Linked DNA regions of Homo sapiens: region 2 is linked to region 1. The links come from fine-mapping of genetic effects on gene expression. Tissue or cell type: pancreas. Region 1 holds a variant in brackets; the other region holds the start of a gene. All regions are shown on one strand. Distances are between the middles of the regions.

Evidence for each region. PIP is the estimated chance that this variant, and not a neighbour inherited with it, causes the effect.
Region 2: it holds the start of PDLIM3, and the variant in region 1 is fine-mapped to the expression of PDLIM3 in pancreas (GTEx, PIP above 0.99).

What each region holds. Positions count from the first base shown.
Region 1 is chr4:185,582,562-185,585,321 of GRCh38, reverse strand. No RefSeq gene overlaps it. Among named protein-coding and RNA genes, the nearest start is that of SORBS2-AS1, 4.0 kb to the left of the region's middle. The variant T/C (reference allele first, on the strand shown) is at 1,283.
Region 2 is chr4:185,534,124-185,536,752 of GRCh38, reverse strand. PDLIM3 (PDZ and LIM domain 3) reads left to right here and starts at 1,246. Exons shown (of 8, transcript NM_014476.6): 1 at 1,246-1,411. The coding sequence starts at 1,319.

The DNA of each region.
Region 1 (2,760 bases):
GCCCTTCAGTTAAAACAATACATTGTAAAATATTTCTGCCTCAAAACAGCTAGTTTTCCAAGGAGGGGTTAGTTACAAGGAGTTGTAAGCACTTTCCCAGTTCAACACTCTGAAATTTTAAAATCTTTGCCCTAAGCAGCTTCAGCACCATTGGCTCGGCAGCTTCTGCAAATGTCCACAGGCTTTCAGTGAATTTCAAATGATGGGTGGCGGTGGGGTCCCCGCTTTCTGCCACACAAATGGGAAAGAGCCAGCTTGCCTGCTTGGATCTTTTCTCATATACCTTAGTCCCTTCTTGCTCTATGTGTTTTGACCCTTTTCCATATCTATCTCTTAAATATTCAGAAATACGGACATTCCTCTTTTGCCAACTCGGTTATCAAAGATGTCTTGTCACGTTGCTTCCCCTTAACACCCACTCTGGTGCCTTCTATGCCATAGGATAATTCCCACTCTATATTAGCATTCTGCTAAAATGTAATCCCTTTGGGTGAAGAATATACCCCATAATAGTCTTTTGGTCTTGTTTTCATCTGAGTGTGTAAGGGTCATATAACTAGATCCATCTGACCTGTCCATCCAGGTGGGTGGAAGGGCGGAAGGAAGGGACCCTCTGATACTTACATGCCAGATCTTCATCCCTCCTTTAGCTGCATCATCACTAAAGACAAGCAAGTCCTTTTCTTACTTGATTCGATGCAGAAATAACCTATTTGAGTAACTTTTCACAATCATCCACTGCCTGATCTCTCATAGTAGGTGGTTGGTTTGTGTGGCCTGATCATTTCTTCCTGCTGTTTTCCAGATTTTAGCCACAAAGAAAGATATTATTTAAAGAATTATCTGATCACGGCCGGGTGCAGTGGCTTATGCCTGTAATCCCAGCACTTTGGGAGGCCGAGGCGGGCAGATCACCTGAGGTGGGGAGTTCGAGGCCAGCCTAACTAATATGGTGAAACCTGGTCTCTACTAAAAATACGAAAATTAGCTGGGCATGGTGGCGCGCGCCTGTAATGCCAGATACTCAGGAGGCCGAGGCAGGAGAATCGCTTGAACCCAGGAAGCAGAGGTTGCAGTGAGCTGAGATCACGTCATTGCACTCCAGCCTGGGCAACAGAGAGAGACCCTGTCTCAAAAAAAAAAAAAAAAAAAAAAAAGCCACACACAATTATTTGATCAAATAAGACTAAGTATCCTGTCAGCTTCCAGTGCCTGTTTATTTAATTAATTATTTCATCCCCCTCTGCAGATGGTAGCTCTCTAACAGTTCATTCATCACTTA[T/C]GATTTCAGATTATTTACTCACCATTAATGATTACAGTTAGAATACAAGCAGAGATTGGTGCTATTAATAAGCTGTCCATAGCAGAGATTTCCAAACTGTGGCCTGTGGACAAAATTCAGCTCACGGCCTGCTCCTGCATGGCCTGCAAATTAAGAATGGTTTGTACAGATGAACACTGGCAATCCCCTTGATAAGAGGGAACTCTAACTTTGAACCTCAGTTAAGTAAAACGCTATCTCCCCAGAAAAGGGTTCTTTTCTTTTCATTAGTAGATCTATGTTAGAAAAAAAACTGTGCTCTATTTGTATTATTATATTCCTAAATCAGTAACAATTGGTGGAAATGTGTTTTCTCTTTATTATGTAAGAAAGAACGTACATAATATCCTTAATTTTGCCTCCTAGCTCACAAAACCTAGAGCATTTACTCTCTGTTTCTTTAGAGGAAACGTTTGTGAACGCTTGCCTGTGCCGATTGGTAGCAACACACCTGGAAACTGGAAACTGACCCGAGGGAAAGAAATAGCGAACACCTGCTGTACACCAGGCTGTTCCTCACATGCGTTCCTTATCTTTATGCTCACAAGAAATCTGACAGGAAGTCTGCTTTGTGCCCATTTTAGAGATGAGGGAGCTGAGGCTCTGGGAAGTTAAATAACTTATCCAGACATGTAAGGTATTATACATAATATTTGATTGAAATCGGATTGAGAATCTCACGTGTCTATCTCCCAAGCCTGTCATCTTTCTTCCAAACCATGTAAGCTTGGTGCTAAACACATTGTGGATGAAGCTGTGCACTCAGGGTTGAGCAGCTGCACCCATCCACCTCCTTCCCTCTCCACCATTCTCACAAGCAGGGCTGACATGAACAGACACCCCCTCATAGCAGCATCTTACTGTGCACAGGATGAAGAGAAAGAGGTGTACCCATCAGCACAAATTGTTTCCCTGAAGAAAGCTGAGTTTGGTTTCTAAAAGGACACTAACCAGTGAGAATATACTTTCAATGACTGACATGTTTTGACTGAGCACAAGCCTGTCTGTGAGTTGAATCAATGGGAGACAGGCGAGCCCAGCGTGCTCTAGGAATGCTGCGTGCTTGCCGGACAGCTCTTAAGCATACAAAGCCCCAAGATACACCAGCCATTTTCTGCTGGATGACTCTAAGTGACCTGAGCCTGAGCTCACTGCTAAATTCAGCCCCTCCACAGGTCAGGACAGTTCCATCTGAGCTCATGCACATGCATATAATCTTGACCCAAAAAACGTTCAGTACAAGACAGAAATCTGCCTAGTAAATCTTCACCTGTTCATTTGGGGTTTCTTGTTTCATTCTTTCCCCTAAAATACTATGGGTGACTCAGTTGTCCCTGTGTCTTCCAAAAATAAGTGTCATTTCCAATACAACTCTTGTTACCATTAACAACACCAGGGGGTACGTGCTGAATCTTGCACTGATTTCACAGGGAGCTTGA
Region 2 (2,629 bases), 49 kb after region 1:
AATGATGCCAAAATGACCAGCAAAAAGGCAAAGAAAAAATCAGCTGTTTATATAAGCCAGCTCGTGAAGTAAGGTAAAAACAATTACTATAATTACACAACACCAAATGACTTGTCTGATTTTTTTTTTCTGAATGGACCTCTGTGTGTGTGCACGTGTATGTCTGCACCACGCAGACAGAGCCAGCAGCTGACTGAAGAAATGTGCTCTGCAGTGATACAGCCACAGCCCAAACAGGCAGTCAGCAGGACACACAATGTTCAGCTCCTCGATGGTCCAGCATAGATGGGGCACTGGGAAATGTGTGGAGCTAGAAAGTGCTTATCCCCTGGGACTTTTATGTAATCCACCACAGCGGACAAAGTAATGCCCATCCTACCTTTGTGATTTACATTTGCCCAGGCTGGTTCGCTTTGCTTACTGCTTACTGCTTACTGCTTTCTGCATCTCCTTTCTCTTTCCTCCATCAGTCTTAAAACTGCTTCCAAACAGACTGCCCTCTTAAAAGTCTGCTGCAGCTCTGTCCTCCTGGACCAATACGACCCTATCATATGGGGCATTAAGTCCAAGACCCTTATTCTTGAGTGTTTAAAGCATTTCTTATTTCTCTTCCCTCATTCTCCCCTCTCCCTTTGGGAATCACAACATCCCAACGCGTAACACCAGAAATACTTGAGTCCACACTGAGACTACCACAGGACCCCGGCCAGACTCTCCTGCACTTTGGGAGGCTGAGGTGGGAAGATTGTTTGAGCCCAGGAGTTCAAGACTAGCCTGGGCAACAAAGTGGAGACCCGGTCTCTAAGAAAAATAAATAAATAAAATAAAAATTTAAAAGGACATTAAGTAATTTGGCCAAAGCCGCAGAGGTCGTAAGTAAATATTAACGCACTCGAAACTGCTAAATAACTTATTGTATCGATGATGCTCGTTTTAATTGAAAGCATGGAGGCTGTGGTCTGGCTGCTTTCGCTTCCAACAAAGTGCACTGCTGCGCTCCAAGCAGAAGATAAACAGGGAGACAGGTGTGACTTCAAGAGAGCGACGGACGCTGTAACCCGAAGCCCCCGCGCCCGCCGCGGCCCGGGAGGCTGCCCCAGCCGGCCGGGCTGCGCACTCCCGCGGGGCTGGCGCGGCTCTCGCTTCCAAAGTTGGAGCTCTCCGGGGTGGGAGGGGGCGGGGAGGACGGCGGGGCGGTGACGTCACCCCCAGCGGGGATAAAGCGCCCCCGCCCGGGTCGGGGCCAGGACGCCGCCCGGCGCGGAGTGGCTGCCCTGCGCGGGGACACTTAGAGCCCGGTGGGCGGGAGGAAGGCGGCATGCCCCAGACGGTGATCCTCCCGGGCCCTGCGCCCTGGGGCTTCAGGCTCTCAGGGGGCATAGACTTCAACCAGCCTTTGGTCATCACCAGGGTAGGTGTCGGCATTCTTGCTTTTGCTGCGAGGTGGGGACTCCGGCGGCGTCCGGGGGGACGCAGTGGATGCCCCGGGGCCGAGGGCGGCCAGAAAGCGCGCGAGGGCGGGCGGACGGGGCGCTGCTGGCTCCCGGGCTTCGGCGCCCAGCTCCGGGGGCGGCGGCAACTCCGTCAAGTGGCTGCGGAGCGGCTCAGAGATTTGACAAAGTCCGCTCTAAAGGTGTCCCATCCTCTGGGTCCGCAGCGACTTTCCGAGGAGAGCCACTGGGCTCAGGGAAGGCGAGGCTGCCAGGCTCGAGTGCCTCCTCCCCTTTAGGTTTTAAATGTTTTATATGTGATAACAGAAATAAAACACACCCCATCGCCCTTCCGTAACAAATGATGGGTCCCGGGTGGGAGAGGCGAGGGACTGGCACCCCCCGGCATTCCCTGGAGCTGGCGCGCATCTGAGCGTTTTTCTCGTCCGGATGAAAAGTTCAGCAGCGCGCTGTTCGCGGGGCACGACCTGCGTTGGCCAAACTGGAGCCGCTCCTATCAGCCCAGACAGGGGAAGTCTTCCTAATGCTCACTCCTCAGTTTCCAGGCATTTTGAGCACGTTTTCCAAAGCTGAGAACTTGGCTTAGGAATTACCAACTTCTAACTCTAGCTACAAAGAAAACGTGGCAGACAGTTTAGTTTACCTGATGCAAAGTAAACCACTCAGCCTAAAACGGAAAATAATGCTTTAATGTCAAAGTCAAGCTTTACTTGGTGTTCTCTACTGTCTAATGAGAAAACAAGGTAAAAATAAAACCTCAGGGTTTCTCTCCTGTCAGTAAATTTGTAGAATTAATTCTAAAGCATTATTTGGTCTAGCTGGTTTTTTTCTAACACAATGTTTTTCTTCATAGAAAATTAATGTATTATTTCAGTTATCACATATAAAACATTTAATACCTAAAGGCGTAAACTTCCAGAATATTATACTTTTAGTTGCAGAGTATTATACTTTATTTTCTTGTATTCTTCTCATGCCATATTTTATAATTGTATGTGTTATAATCTGATTGATCTGCTCATACAGATTTTGAACAAGGTAATACCTTTTAAATTCTGTTTTATTTATATATGCCTATGAGATTTGGGAACCAACATCCTTTTAAAAATATGTCAAAATGTGTATCCTACAGACGCATACAATGGAACGTTTCAAGCCTTGTTTTACATTTTTCAAAA